2 linked regions of the Homo sapiens genome follow. The protein of the gene in region 1 purifies or fractionates together with the protein of each later gene. This does not show direct contact. Each region holds a gene or a part of one and is shown in the gene's direction. Other genes may lie near its edges.

Region 1 (4,284 bases):
TCTCAACAAGACTTTCCTGAGATGTCTCATCACAGGAGACTCTTTTCCTCCCTGAGGAGATTATCGATGTATTTATCTCAGAATCTTCCATTTTGAGAGGCTGAGGCAAGAGGATTACTTGAGGCCAGGAGTTTGAGACCAGCCCGGGTAACATAGCAAACCCCTGTCTCTGCAAAAAAAAAAAAAAAAAAAAAAAAAAAAAAAAAAAAAAAAAAAAAAAAAAAAAAACACACACACACACACACAAACAAGAAGGTAAAAAAATTCTTTTAAAAAGTAAAAAAATTAACCAGTGCAGTGGCACACATCTGTAGTCCTAGATACTTGGGAGGCTGAGATGGAAGGATCATTTGAGCCCAAGAGTTCGAAGTTGGAGTGAGCTATGATTGTGCCACTGTACTCCAGCCTGGGTGACAGAGGGAGACCCCATTTTTTCTCTCTCTCTGTCTCTCTCTCTCGGTCTCTCTCTCTCTCTCTCTCTCTGTCTCTCTCTCTCTTTCACACACACACACACACACACACACACACACACTCAGAGACACCCCACAGAATTTTGCCAGTGCACTGTAGTTAATGGTCATGACCAGGCCTTCTTCATCTTTGCATGGGCAGCCAGAAGATACATTGCATTATTAAATGTCAGGAATTGAGTGGGATACTGCTTTAAACAGTTTTTCAAACTGAAGGCTGCGACAATTTGGGCCCTAGAATTAGTTTAGTAGAAAATTAATTATAATTGAATGAAATAGAATAGATAATATTAAGAAGTCATATATAAGGATGAGTTTTGCTTTCCCATGAATTATTTGTTGCAATTTGTATCTCTGTGCTAGGATGCAAAACATAATTCTTACTGTGGATTATGGGAAAAACAAGTTCAAAAGTTACTATTTTATGTAATTCTTAGGGGGTAATAGTGGGATTTCTCAGAAGGAAAAGCTGAAATTGAATTTTAGAACTTACATGAGGCAGGATGCACAGTAGATCTCTGGTCAGACCACCCAGATTGATATCCCCAGTTAACACTTTTTAGTTGTGTGATTTTGGACAAGTTACTTATGTATTCTGTGCCTCAGTTTCCTCATTTGTAAAATGAAGAGAGTACCAGCCATAAATAATCAAAAGGGTCAGATTCCAGTTTTCCAGAGTTTATTCAAGTGAAAAGTTGGCAATGGCCATTCCGGGACTCATCACTCCAGAGAAATGGGGATAGGGTTCCAAAGTTAAAAGCTAAATTCTTGCTTATATATAAGACAAAGAAATTTAGCAGGGTTACAACATTTTGTATACAAGCCTGGTTTAGTAGTTAAAAAAATTAGTTACAATTTGTTTTCTTTTCCACGCGGCTTGTTTTCTTTATAGCTGGTTTTCATTTCCTTTCCAACTTAAAAGAGTGTATTTAACATTCCATATTAAGGGACTGTGATAGCCATGATGTCTTGTATGAAAAAGGTAAGAGGGAGAATGAAAATCAACAGGAAGAGAGAAGGGGGTCTTCCCTGGGGCCCTTTGCCATTTACAACATTTTACAGAGCAATGCAGGTAAGGAAAAAGACTGAATTCAGACATACAACAGCTTACAGCTGCCTGTCACGTAGCTCAGGCCCTGTAATTCACATTCCTTGAAGGCTCAAAATACTTTTGAGTTCCAACAGCTTAGATTTTGCATTACTTATTTTTACAAGGGTAACCACCTTACAGTCCTTAAAAGGACTTAATGGGTAAGTATAATACGCTTAAATCAATACCTGGAGCATATGTGTTAGTTAGCATAATAATAATAATAGTTATTATTATTAAAGACAAGAGTTACTGTATGTCATAGGAGTTATGACAATCAACCAGAAGCTACTGTTTTATTGAATGCCTACATTGCTATTATATAAACAAAGGCAATTTGGAGTATGGCCCTGATCCTCATGTTACTTACGGAGGAAATGGACCTAACATGTATGAGACAATCAGAGAATAACAGACTGTCTCACGCAGTAAACATGACATCACATGTGTATAGGAGATATTAGGCTTTCATATTTTTATGGTAGCATTTTGTACTGTCCTGAAGCAAGTTAAAGCTTCGATTCTTAGCTCCTTGTAGAGGAACAAAGTATTTTTGAGTTTCCCTTCAGTGGTTCAGGACAGGGACTGGGGAGTTAAAAGCTCCTTTGGGGGTGGGGTGTTGGGAGAAAGGAGCACAGCATTAGAAAATGAGAATGTTAATGTATATATTGAATCAAGATCTTATTATCATAAGTAAACACTCATCCAAAAGGAAATATGGGAATTCTTTTTATTCCTGTATTTTTTTGGGGAAAATTTGAGGCAACTGCCTCAAATTACATTTAGTGTTCACATGCCATTTTACCTATGATGTTATTTAGAATTGTGGAGTTGTTGCCAAGAGGAGGAATTAGCTCAATTAAAGCACCTTCCAAATGAGACTGTTTAGTCTTAGCCATGAGTAAGTTGTTAGTAATTTGGATTATTATTAATTCTACTGCATAAGTCTGTGGAATACATGGAGAGACAAAGCAGACCTTTCTTAATATATATGCTTTCTTCTAGAGCAGTGCTTTGGAAACTTGTATGTGCATTCCAATCATCTGGGCATTTTTTTTTTTTTTTTTTGAGACAGAGTTTCACTCTTGTTGCCCAGGCTGGAGTACAATGGCACTATCTCGGCTCACTGCAACCTCTGCCTCCTGGGTTCAAGCGATTCTCCTGCCTCAGCCTTCTGAGTAGCTGGGATTACAGATGCCCCCACAATGTCCAGCTAATTTTTTGTATTTTTAGTAGAGATAGGGTTTCACCATATTGGCCAGGCTGGTCTTGAACTCCTGACTTCAGATGATCTACCTGCCTTGGCCTCCCAAAGTGCTGGGATTACAGGAGTGAGCCACCACGCCCAGACTCACCTGGGCATCTTTTTAAAACGCAGGTTCAGATTCTACAGATCTGAGGTGGGTCCTGAGATGCATCATTTCTAACAACCTCCTAGGTGATGCTGATGCTGCTGGTTTGCAAACTATACTTTGAATTGCAAGATTCAGATGTTGCTTTTTGTAAAAAACAAACAAAATCCCCCAAAACCAAAACCCAAAACTTTGTGTTTATATTTTATAATTTTTCTGACCAAATTTTTACCTAATTTACTTACTGAATCCCAATTTAGTCTTTGGCTAACAATTGGGCACTCAAATCTTTGCTGAGGAATGCATGTGTTCTATATCATAATCAATATCTTTAGAAACAATTCCCTTAATTAAAGGCACCCACAATTTTTAGTATTATCTGTAGAATTTTAATTTTATTTTATTGTGATAAATGGCTCTTTATGCAATGGAAATGTTGCCAGAGTCCCTGTTCTTGGACACCTCTTAAACCAAATGCCATTTAAATGACCACAGACTAAATACAAAGTAGGTAAATGCTTACAGGGAAAGGGGAAAGTGGATCAAGGTAGAAAAAAGACAATTTGTTTTAAACACTCTTAATACAACTTGTTCTCTCTCCCCTTAAACATGTTTAAAACAACGTAAAGCACAGATGATTGTCTGAAAGAAAAAGAAATCATTTGCACAGCCCCTGTTTTCCAGCTTGGTGCCCTTTGATGGGTGGTGAGTGGTAGCGATGTGGCCCAGTGAGACGGCACAGTCGCTCTTCCTGCAGGTCAGAATCTTCCTAGGCTGTTGCTCTTCCAAGGTACTCTGAGTCCTGCGATGGTGGCCTGGGGTTTTGTTTCCTAAGAAGTAGTTGCCATTATTTTGATTCATCCTACTGTTCTAACCAAAACAAAAACCAAAAAACTCCAAATGGTAACAGATATTCATATACCCGGACACCCAAGTCAGTGAGTGTCACGTGGCTTCCAGATTTGCATCTGTGCTGCAGTAGTCTTTCTTCCTGGCAGGTGTACTTTTGCATGTGATGGGAGATGCCCTGGGGTCCGTGGTTGTGGTCATCACGGCCATCATATTCTATGTGCTTCCCCTGAAGAGTGAGGACCCGTGTAACTGGCAGTGTTACATTGACCCCAGCCTGACTGTCCTCATGGTCATCATCATTTTGTCATCTGCCTTCCCGCTTATCAAGGAGACCGCTGCCATTCTGCTACAGATGGTCCCAAAAGGAGTCAACATGGAAGAGCTGAGTAAGTAGACTGAATTTTGATCCAGAACCACTCTCAATTTAATGTTATTCAGGCCAAAGGACAAGCATTATTTAAGAGCAGTGTTTGAGTTATGTATTCTGAAACACCTTAAATCACCAGGTGGTAGAGATGTC
Region 2 (3,892 bases), about 210 Mb from region 1:
CAGCCAGGCTTGCCCTTCATTCCAAGCAAGACCAGGACTTCTTTGTAACGCCCACCCAGACAAAAGATTGGTTTCTGCCTCCTGTGTTGGAAGGGGAACTGGTATGGGGTGTGGTCGGGCCCGGTAGGTCTACTGGGCCTTGGCAGGCATCCGGTAGTGGGACTCAGGTTGGCTCTTCCCTTGCAGGTACTTTCAGCCCCGTCACTCTGGCCTTGTTCTTCGTTCTCTATTTCTTGCTTGCATGTTGGACTTACGGCATTTCTGTTCCAAGTGGCCTTTTTGTGCCTTCTCTGCTGTGTGGAGCTGCTTTTGGACGTTTAGTTGCCAATGTCCTAAAAAGGTACTCTGTGTGTGTGCGTGTGTGTGCGCATGTGCATGTGTGTGCACGTGTGCGTGTGTATGCATGTGTGTGCGTGTGCGTGCGTTGATGTGTCTGTGCCCATGCATGCACATATGTGCATAGGCACAAGAGTATGAGCTGTAGGTCCTCCCCACAGCCTATCAGTGTGGTTCAAAGCCATGTTCTCGGTGTTTTCCTTCACTAGCTACATTGGATTGGGCCACATCTATTCGGGGACCTTTGCCCTGATTGGTGCAGCGGCTTTCTTGGGCGGGGTGGTCCGCATGACCATCAGCCTCACGGTCATCCTGATCGAGTCCACCAATGAGATCACCTACGGGCTCCCCATCATGGTCACACTGATGGTGAGCACACTCCCTCCAGGCCCCTGTCAGGCTCAGGGCCACGTCCGCCCCACAGGACCTATTTTTAGGTCTTTGCTTTGTGTTTCAGGTGGCCAAATGGACAGGGGACTTTTTCAATAAGGGCATTTATGATATCCACGTGGGCCTGCGAGGCGTGCCGCTTCTGGAATGGGAGACAGAGGTGGAAATGGACAAGTAAGGCCATGATTTTGCTCATGTCCTAGTTTCAGAATGTATAAGCTCTGAGGCCTAAGGAATGTTGTTATTAGGGTAGGAAACAGTAACTCACTTTTCTTGGGCTGAAAGAAGCAACACACCCATTCCTGAGCATGTGTGAGAATGTGGAGCAGCCCATGGGCTGGGGGCTGCGGGGGCAGGGCAGGGGACACGGGCACTGTGGGACTGCAGTGGGCAGGGCCTCTTCGTGGTGGTTTGACTCCCATGGCATTCTGGTTAGATATGAGGTGAGGTCTCTGGATCAAGTTCGTGATGTGATTGAATGTTTAAGGGTATGCCAAGCCCCAGGAGTGAGAATAGCCTGTTTCACATGTGCCCACCAGAATGCCCTACTGCCAGCCGGGATTGTTCTGGGCATAATCACCTCATAACCCACCTGCTAATCCACAGGTACCTGGGCTTCCTGTGTCTAGATAGCAGGCAAGGCCCTTACGGGCTAACACGGGGGCCAGCAAGCCGTTTCTGTGGAGGGCCAGACAGGAGTTTATTTTCAACTTTCCGGGCTGTATGGTCTCTGTCACGACTACTCGACTCTGTCATTGCAGCAGGAAAGCAGTAAGCGTGACGGACTTGATCAGTGGGCTACAGTTTGCTGTGCCCTGATCTAAAGGGGGACCCAAGTGCTGTGTTTATTTTATTATTATTGTTTTTCTTTTTTGGGACAGGATCTCACTCTGTCGCCTAGGCTGGAGTAGGGTGGCATGATTATAGCTCACTGCAACCTATGCCTCCCAGGCTCAAGCGATCCTCCACCTCAGCCTCCTGAGTAGCTGGGATCACAGGCGCGTGCCACCACACCTGGCTAATTTTTAACATTTTTTTTATAGAAATGGGGTTTTGCTGTGTTGCCCAGGCTGGTTTTGAACTCCTGGGCTCAAGCAATCTGCTGGCCTCGGCCTCCCAAAGTGCTGGGATTACATGCGTGAGCCGCTGCACCCAGCCCACCCATTTACCCAGTTGTGGTAAATGCTGTAGCAGAATTAGCAGTTCAGGGGTAGTATGTGGAGCGTGCTGCAGGGCACCGAGGAGGGCGTGGCCAGCCCCTGGACCAGCAGCCAGGGCTTCCTGGTGAGGGGATGTTGCTGTTGAGCTGAGGGATGAGCCCGAGCCCATCAGCCTGGTACAGCAGGGTACGACATTCCAGGTGCGGGAACAGCATGTGTCGGGGGATAGAAGTACAAAGGAATGCATCGGGTTTGAGGGAGAGCTGGGGCAGTTCAGAAGAGCCCCCCACCCCGCCCGTGGTCTGAGCAGGGCTGGAGAGCCAGCACAGCTTGCTCCCAGGGGCCTGCGGGCACTGTCATGAGGCTGGATGACTTGCCCTCCTCCCCCAGGCTGAGAGCCAGCGACATCATGGAGCCCAACCTGACCTACGTCTACCCGCACACCCGCATCCAGTCTCTGGTGAGCATCCTGCGCACCACGGTCCACCATGCCTTCCCGGTGGTCACAGAGAACCGCGGTAACGAGAAGGAGTTCATGAAGGGCAACCAGCTCATCAGCAACAACATCAAGTTCAAGGTAAAGAAAACGGCATGAGAGGAAAGGCAGGTGAGAGACAAGCGGTCCCGTCTCACACGGCTTAGTGCTTTGCCCACCCCTGGCTGGGGTGGACTTACCGGCTCTCAGGGGAAGTTGGCACTGTTCTCATCACATGCGACAGGGAGAGTAGATTTGACAGCAGGGGCAGCTTTATCAGGCCGTGAAGATGTGTGTGCGTTCTTGCCGCAATGAGCATGTGGACAGATCTGTTTTTCAAGTCAGCAGCTTTCATGGTTTGTTTACCATGTGAGAGTATCAGGGAGAGTTCTAGAGATGCCAGCAACAGAAATGGACTTCGACCTCCTTAAGAAAGAGAAAGAAATCCACAGGAAAGCTCAGGACAGCTGGGAAAGCTGAAGGACCAGAACCATGTGCTGTGGGGAGCAGTGCAGGGTCTAGCAGACATCCCTTGGGTACCAGGAGGAAGGAGCACTGGCCCTGGGTTCCTCCTGATTCCGATTCAGAATCCAGGGAGAGGGGGTATCCTGTTGCCTCACTTGGGTCATGTGCCACTCCTTGGCTTTGGGGGCAGGCACGTTGATTGAAAATTCTATCAAGACAGGATGTAGGAGATGGCTTGTTCCCCTCTGGAGAATCAAGCTGCTCTTCCCAGATTAAAGGAAACCACAGAAGCTGCAGCCAGGTCCTAGGGTTCAGGCTCATTTGAACCACCAGCCTGAGCCACTCTTTTGAACCTCAGCCCCATTAAGTTCCTGCGTCCGGATGTGCTTCTGACCCTCCCTGTCACCCAAATCCTTAAGCTCCATCAGTACTGCTGTGTTCGTTTGCCCATGCGCAGTAGCCTGTGGCCTCCCCACCCACAGAAATCCAGCATCCTCACCCGGGCTGGCGAGCAGCGCAAACGGAGCCAGTCCATGAAGTCCTACCCATCCAGCGAGCTACGGAACATGTGTGATGAGCACATCGCCTCTGAGGAGCCAGCCGAGAAGGAGGACCTCCTGCAGCAGATGCTGGAAAGGAGGTGAGAGCCTGGCGGGGCCCCCACTGCCCGCAGGGCTACACAGCGGTGGGGTGAGCCTTTGGCTCAGATGTTGTGAGGTGGCTCCTGAGTTTCCTGGGAAAGTTGGATGGGGAGCGGGCTGGGAACATGGATCAGAAGCGCTCCCGCTGAGGGTATCCCAGGCAGCATCTGGTTTTTGTGTAACAGATACACTCCCTACCCCAACCTATACCCTGACCAGTCCCCAAGTGAAGACTGGACCATGGAGGAGCGGTTCCGCCCTCTGACCTTCCACGGCCTGATCCTTCGGTCGCAGCTTGTCACCCTGCTTGTCCGAGGAGTTTGTTACTCTGAAAGCCAGTCGGTAAGTCTCTCCGAGGCAGAAATCAGCCAGGCCAGACCTGACGAAGCTCGAGGGGTTGGGCGCTGCCGGCGGGCCGTGAACAG

The links. The genes of interacting proteins can lie anywhere in the genome.
Region 2: the proteins of SLC30A10 (region 1) and CLCN6 purify together in Homo sapiens (affinity purification with mass spectrometry; one large-scale study listed by BioGRID and IntAct). This does not show direct contact.

Annotation. Positions count from the first base shown.
Region 1 is NC_000001.11:219,918,121-219,922,404, reverse strand, and holds part of SLC30A10 (calcium/manganese antiporter SLC30A10), read left to right. Parts: intron 1-3,910; coding exon 3,911-4,150; intron 4,151-4,284. UniProt on the Homo sapiens protein: Calcium:manganese antiporter of the plasma membrane mediating the efflux of intracellular manganese coupled to an active extracellular calcium exchange.
Region 2 is NC_000001.11:11,833,691-11,837,582, forward strand, and holds part of CLCN6 (H(+)/Cl(-) exchange transporter 6), read left to right. Parts: intron 1-186; coding exon 187-340; intron 341-545; coding exon 546-705; intron 706-793; coding exon 794-900; intron 901-2,276; coding exon 2,277-2,463; intron 2,464-3,308; coding exon 3,309-3,466; intron 3,467-3,652; coding exon 3,653-3,809; intron 3,810-3,892. UniProt on the Homo sapiens protein: Voltage-gated channel mediating the exchange of chloride ions against protons. Functions as antiporter and contributes to the acidification of the late endosome lumen.